2 linked regions of the Homo sapiens genome follow. The protein of the gene in region 1 interacts with the protein of each later gene in a pairwise test. Each region holds a gene or a part of one and is shown in the gene's direction. Other genes may lie near its edges.

Evidence for each region.
Region 2: the proteins of ENAH (region 1) and XIRP1 interact in a two-hybrid assay, tested with the Homo sapiens proteins (one study listed by BioGRID).

What each region holds. Positions count from the first base shown.
Region 1 is NC_000001.11:225,646,565-225,650,381, reverse strand, and holds part of ENAH (protein enabled homolog), read left to right. Parts: intron 1-3,817. UniProt on the Homo sapiens protein: Ena/VASP proteins are actin-associated proteins involved in a range of processes dependent on cytoskeleton remodeling and cell polarity such as axon guidance and lamellipodial and filopodial dynamics in migrating cells.
Region 2 is NC_000003.12:39,182,422-39,186,179, reverse strand, and holds the end of XIRP1 (xin actin-binding repeat-containing protein 1), read left to right. Parts: coding exon 1-2,266; 3' UTR 2,267-2,965; downstream 2,966-3,758. UniProt on the Homo sapiens protein: Protects actin filaments from depolymerization. Required for correct cardiac intercalated disk ultrastructure via maintenance of cell-cell adhesion stability, and as a result maintains cardiac organ morphology, conductance and heart beat rhythm.

The sequences.
Region 1 (3,817 bases):
TTCAAGCTCTTTTCTTGCTCTGTTCCTTATGAAGTGTAGAGAGAGAGGAACCACGCTGATGTTTTCCAGTAACGTAAATATAGAACTTGGTACACAGGTCTGAAAAGTTTATTTAAGCAGTCTACAGTAATTCTTCGTAGGCTAATTTTGAATAAGAGCAGGAAAGAGGGTCAGCTTTTCACTTTGGAAGGTACTGGATTATTTGGCAGGTGGTTAGGTAGTACTTAGATTTGCTTAGATACCTGTAAAAGTGAGATTGGTATGGGATAAAACGTTCTTGTGCTGCTTGCAAAAGTCTTTGGAATATTCTTTGGGATATTTTGGTGCTTAGGAAGTGCTTTTCAGGTTATATTAATATATGCTTAGTCTTCATGCTTTCAAGTCCTGTGGGACGTTAATGTTAGTCTTTTAAGTTGAGTCCTTTTTGGTTATATTAAGAGGTAGTTCTGATGTTTCAAAGGCCATCCAGAAATAGGAATGCCTGAACAGGAATTTCCAATTAAGTCGGTCAGAATCCTGAACAGAGGATATGATGAATATATTACGGTATAACTATTAGTGGTATCTGTCAGATGACTTTAATTTTAGGAATAGCATGATCACTGTGTATAATCTTATACAGAAGAGAACTGAATAATAGTTTATGTTCCTGAAACGGTCATAGGCATTTGAGTAAAATGCAGTATATAGATTTACTTGTTAATATTTTGCTTAAAGATGAATATTTAAAAAATGAAAAAGCATATTACTTATACAGGACAGTGGAAAGGTTGAGACCAAAAAGCTGGTACTTTTAGTGTCCTGTCTGTTTAGTTCTATTCTTATTTTTCATTTATGCAATGTTTCAAAAGTGTAAGATGCTTTGTGATTAAAGTGTGCGTGTATGTATGTGAATGCGTTTGTATGCATGTACATACAGTGTGTGCCTTTTAAGTGCATTTTTAAAATTAGTTGGTTTGTTACTTAAGATTTTTTTTTTTTTTTAACTGAAAGAGGAGCTTGTCTGATCTAAAATAGTTGCATGTAGCCTGGTGGCTAAGGAGAGCTCAGAAGATTTTGTATTTACATTCTTGGATCCGTATTAAAATAGTCCAGGCTTCCACTAGCTACTCTGACTTTCTCATATAAAAAGGTATAGTAGGGTTATGAGGATTTGTCCAAGCCATTTACTAGCTGGGTGACCTTGAAGTAATCACATTATTTCACTGATGCCTTTTTAAAAAATATGTAAAAATAGAGATAATTCTTAACTGAGTAGTGAGGATCAAATGATAATAGAAGGTACTTTATACACTGGTAAGCCTTAAATTTATGTTACTCCTCCTGTTTCCAGGCCTATTTCTATGTTAGACTATTTGGGTAAAACTTCTGGGCAGTGGGCTCCACCTTGCGACCTTATTTAGCTCAAGGATGTCAAAAAGACCACATTTTTATTATTTTATAGGTGAGGAAGCTGTTCCCTTCTTCTGTGTTTCCTTCCTTAGGGTCTTTGAAGTATCTTTATTTGTGGTAATCATAAATTTTATATACATTTCAGAGTGTGGTACAATCAAGGGTCAGAAGATCCAGGTTTTATATGCTGACCTGTTAATTGAGTAAACTGGTAAAAAAAAAAAAAAAAAAGGAGATAATCTTATATTTCACAGGATTGTTTTGTGAAGTGTCAAGTGAGATATCCATGAAAGGATACAAATAGTAGTCTCTTTGTTCCCATGGGTCTTCATTTATACTCGTAGCTGTTGGATGTGTGACTTTCCCACAGAGGTTTATTTTAGGAGCAAGAGCCAAATCTTCATTTTTTGAATGTCAGTATTGTAGGAATTTACTAAGTGAATAAATCTTGAAGAAGAGTGTGGATTAATAGAGAAAATTCACTAAAGTTTATTCAGTATTCAAGGTGTTGGATACCTTGTTGGCCCAGTTGGATTAAGCAAAATAACTATGGAGGCACCATTTGGCTGGTATAGAAGAAATTACATACTGAATAGGTTTTGGTGATTTATCTTACAGAAGGCTTAAAACAGGTGATTGTATAACTTGTAAAATATCTAGTCTGTATCATGAGTGTAAGAAAGATTTGAAAAAATGTGATTTCAATTTTTATATGGTTGTAGGGGAGTAAAAGGGTATTTAAACCCTACTTGTGCCAACTTAAAGTTGTCTTTTCCTCTTTTTTCTCCTCCTTGTTTGAAATTGATGAATGGAATTAAGTGGAAGTAAAAGTTAGAGAATATGAGCTGAGGCTGTACTTCAGTGGATGCTTCTTCAGATAAGGGTTTACGAAATTTTCCTGACTAGAAACAAGAAGGGGACTCCTTGTCAGACCTGGGATATAGTCCTTGACTTGCCCCTAACATGCTCCCCCAACCCCCTTGTCCCCCACTATTCCTGTGTGTTCCAGTGCACTTTACATGTTTTTTTGCTATTGAATTTATTCTGTCTTATAATTATGTGGTTCTTTTTGTCCCTCTTCATTGTAAGTTCCTTGAAGAGGATTTTTATATTCATGGTACTAGCAAAATACTAGCATTTTTATATTCATGGTACTAGCAAAATACTTGGCAAATAGTGGGTGGCCTGTGTAAGTGTTTGACTTTGACTGCGTTGCTCTTTTATAGAATCTGTTCACTAGCAACCCCATTTTTGGAATACCTGTAGTGTTCTAGAAGCTCTACTGGATATTGTAGGGTGTAGTGTAGTATTTGGTGGATACTAAATGTTAATAACATAATTTAATTAAGCAAGCAAAAACTCACATCCTGACTCCAGGAATAGGTGTAGAATTTGGTTTTCTTTTGTTCTTTTTTAAATTTTAATTTAATTTTTATTTTGTAGAGATGTGGTCTTGCTATGTGGACCAGGCAGGTTTTGAACTCACCTGGCCAGAATTTATTTCTTATTCTAACACAGAGCTTGGAAGTGGCTACAAGTGTCAGGATTGTCTAAATTCTAAGCCCTTTGGAGGATACCATGTTTACTTGACTTTATGATTAAATTCTGAATTACTGAAAGGGCCATCAATCTGTTTTTAAGTCTCTTTGACCAAAGAACTTGTAAATATTTTCAAGTAACAAGCATATGCATCTCTATTGGTTTAATTTATTTTTACCCCATTTAGTGCTTGCTTTGTTTTGATTCTTTTTTTGTTTTTGTTTTTTGAGATGGAGTCTCACTCTTGCCCAGGCTGGAGTGCAGTGGCATGATCTCCACTCACTGCAGCTTCCGCCTCCTGGGTTCAAGCAATTCTCTAGCCTCAGCCTCCCGAGTAGCTGAGACTACAGGCGCGTGCCACCACGCCCAGCTAATTTTTTGTATTTTTAGTAGAGATGGGGTTTCAACATGTTAGCCAGGATGGTCTTGATCTCCTGACCTCGTGATGCGCCCACCTCAGCCTCCCAAAGTGCTGGGATTATAGGCGTGAGTCACCGCCCCCAGCCCTGCTTTGTTTTGATTCTTATCAGTGCTTCAAATACCAATCACTGGGTAGTGTATGATACTCTTGAAGTATTAGTGTGGGCTGCCATAACAAAATACCATAGACTGGGTGGCTTAAACAACAGAAAATTATTTTTTATTTTTATTTATTAATTTTTTTGAGACAGTCTCACTGTGTCGCCCAGGCTGGATTGCAGCGGCTCGATCTCAGGTTACTGCAAGCTCTGCCTCCCGGGTTCACACCATTCTCCTGCCTCAGCCTCCTGAGCAGGTGGGACCACAGGCGCCTGCCACCACGCCTGGCTAATTTTTTTGTATTTTTTAGTTGAGATGGGGTTTCACTGTGTTAGCCAGGATGGTCTTGATCTCCTGACCTCGTGGG
Region 2 (3,758 bases), on another chromosome or scaffold:
CCAGGACGGTCTTCGGAAAGCTGGGGCTACCCAAAGCAACATAAGGCCTGGGGGTGGAAGTGATCCCCGGATCCCAGCAGCCCCCAGAAAGGTCAGTAGGGAAGAGCAAGCACTACCCAGAGGGCTGCCTGGGGGGTGGGTGACAATTCAGGATGGCATCTACACCGCTCATCCCGTGAGGACCTTTGACCCACCTGGGGGTGTCCAGCTTTCTCAGAGGGAACCCCAGTCAAGGCACAGGGAGACTGCCCTCTCAGTCCAGGCTCCCCGCCCACTCCAGGGAGGCCCAGGTCAGAGTACTGGGCCAGGGCGGGAGGAGCCTGGGGGCTGCACACAGATGGCCTGGGGGCCACCAGGGAAGGCGATGGCAGAAGTCTGCCCAGGGGGCCTCCAAGCTGCAGAGACCACCCTGAAGACTGCCCCTCTAGGCCGCCACATTCTGGCCTCTGGGCCCCAAGCTGCAGGTGCCAGCCCGCACCCCCATAATGCCTTTGTTCCTCCTCCTCCTACTCTCCCAGCTGCTGTGACAGGACCTGACTTTCCAGCTGGAGCCCACCGTGCTGAGGACTCCATCCAGCAAGCCTCTGAGCCCCTGAAGGACCCCCTTCTTCACTCCCACAGCAGCCCTGCTGGCCAGAGAACCCCTGGAGGGTCACAGACAAAGACCCCAAAACTGGACCCCACCATGCCCCCAAAGAAGAAGCCGCAGCTGCCCCCTAAACCTGCACACCTAACCCAGAGCCACCCTCCTCAGAGGCTGCCCAAGCCCTTGCCTCTATCTCCCAGCTTTTCCTCGGAGGTGGGGCAAAGAGAACACCAACGAGGTGAGAGAGATACAGCCATCCCTCAGCCAGCCAAGGTTCCCACTACTGTAGACCAGGGCCACATACCTCTGGCCAGATGTCCCAGTGGACATAGCCAGCCCAGCTTACAACATGGCCTCAGCACCACGGCCCCCAGGCCCACCAAGAATCAGGCTACAGGCAGCAATGCCCAGAGCTCTGAGCCCCCCAAGCTCAATGCCCTCAACCATGATCCCACCTCACCACAGTGGGGCCCCGGCCCCTCAGGAGAGCAGCCCATGGAAGGTTCCCACCAAGGGGCCCCTGAGAGCCCTGACAGTCTGCAAAGAAACCAGAAAGAGCTCCAGGGCCTCCTGAACCAGGTGCAAGCCCTGGAGAAGGAGGCCGCAAGCAGTGTGGACGTGCAGGCCCTGCGGAGGCTCTTTGAGGCCGTGCCCCAGCTGGGAGGGGCTGCTCCTCAGGCTCCTGCTGCCCACCAAAAGCCCGAGGCCTCAGTGGAGCAGGCCTTTGGGGAGCTGACACGGGTCAGCACGGAAGTTGCTCAACTGAAGGAACAGACCTTGGCAAGGCTGCTGGACATTGAAGAGGCTGTGCACAAGGCACTCAGCTCCATGTCTAGCCTCCAGCCTGAGGCCAGTGCCAGAGGCCATTTCCAGGGACCTCCAAAAGACCACAGTGCCCACAAGATCAGTGTCACAGTCAGCAGTAGCGCCAGGCCCAGTGGCTCAGGCCAGGAGGTCGGAGGTCAAACTGCAGTCAAGAACCAAGCCAAGGTTGAATGCCACACTGAGGCCCAGAGTCAAGTCAAGATCAGAAATCACACAGAGGCCAGAGGTCACACAGCCTCAACTGCCCCTTCCACCAGGAGGCAGGAGACATCAAGAGAGTATTTGTGCCCTCCTCGGGTTTTACCTTCCAGCCGAGATTCTCCCTCCTCCCCAACATTTATCTCCATCCAGTCGGCCACAAGGAAGCCTCTAGAGACTCCCAGCTTTAAGGGCAACCCTGATGTCTCAGTGAAAAGCACACAACTGGCTCAGGACATAGGCCAGGCCCTGCTCCACCAGAAAGGTGTCCAAGACAAAACTGGGAAGAAGGACATCACCCAGTGCTCTGTGCAACCTGAACCTGCCCCTCCCTCAGCCAGTCCCCTGCCCAGAGGGTGGCAAAAGAGTGTTCTGGAGCTACAGACGGGGCCAGGGAGCTCACAACACTATGGAGCCATGAGAACCGTGACTGAACAGTATGAGGAGGTGGACCAGTTTGGGAACACAGTCCTCATGTCTTCCACCACAGTCACCGAGCAGGCAGAGCCACCCAGGAACCCAGGCTCCCACCTCGGGCTCCACGCCTCCCCCTTGCTGAGGCAGTTCCTGCACAGCCCAGCTGGGTTCAGCAGTGACCTGACAGAAGCTGAGACGGTGCAGGTGTCCTGCAGCTACTCCCAGCCAGCTGCCCAGTGAGGCCCACCGCCTCCCACCACACCTGCCACCTGTTCCTGGCCTCCACTGCCCCAGGACTGAAGTGGGTACCTGCCTCCTGTACACTGGAGCAAGGACCAAGAGGAAATGGCATCTTCAGAGGATTACTGTGGGCCATTTCCCTTTCGCAGTTCTTTCAATAGGCCCAGTTCTTCCAAATGGAAAAAGAAAGGTCTGGAAGAGGCCCACAGAGTTGCACAGGCGTGGGGGTAGGATGGGGGCTCCCAGCTGCTTGTGGAGGATGTAATATATACAGACACACACATGTTTTTCACACAGGCCTGGCCCACGCATCGACATGTGTGAATTTGCACACCACTGCCTGAATTGGAGCCCCCCAGAGTGTCCCTCTACCCAGAGTTTTTATTTCTTTAATTAGTCTGAGTGTTCCCAGCCATCTGCTCCTTAATCCCTGGAGAGGAACAGAGCCAACTGGACACAGCGTTGGTCTCTGTTTGGAATCACTGTGAGGTCTCCAGAAGGACCTGGCCGCCAGCCCCTTCATCACCATCTCCATCATTCAGCTGGTCATCTGGTGGCCCAAAGGTCACCCAAAGAGTCAGCAATCAGCATGTCCCTAGAAGCCAAATGCACTGCCTTTCTCTGTCCCCATGACTGTCCCCCACTCTGCACCCCAAATGGGAAGCATACGGTCTGAATAAATCCAAGTTTTATTCTCTACTCTGTGCATGTCTGACTGTGTGTACATCTGTTCCAGTATGTGTTCCTACTGCAGGGGGAGAAAACAGCCACAACCTCCAGGTGCCTCGTCTTCCTAGCAACAGCAGTGTGGGAAGGCTCTAAAAGCCACCCCTTCTCCACCATCTTGGCTGGCAACCAGAAATGCCCTGCCCACACTTCTATTCTCCTTGCCCCTATCCCCATCACACACACACACACACACACACACACACACACACACACACACACAGTGCTGCCCTCTCTATCTCGACCTCGCCTCCTGGATGTTCTTGAATACCATCCTGGAGGGGTTCTTAGAATCCTGCCCCAGAGCTGGAGAGCAGCCCAGTCAGGACTGGGAAGCAGGAGGAACTCACGCCAGGAGAATTCCTGTGCCCAAGATGGCTGGATCACTTCTGCCTGTTCAGCCCAGGTGTTGTGTGCCAAGCAGTGGTTCCTGAGAAATGAAGTGCTCAGATCCTGGCCTGGAAAGTCAGGTTGTTTTGGTGAAGGGCCCTTTTCATGCTGTCTTTCAAAAATCACTAAGCATCTTCTGTATTCCAGGCCTGTTCTAGGCAGTGGGGACACAGAGGTGAGGTCCAATGGGGTCCCGCTTTCAGGGAACTTTTTAGAATGAGGAGACAGAGAGACAATAAATAAGAAAAATTAGATCAGGAATAGGGTGACGCATCTGACTAGGCCACTCTCCCACTTTGGGATAAGAGTCTTAAAATATGGTCATATGACAATGGCAGGTGACTGCCTTAGACGGAGTGGCCAAGGCAGGGCTCTC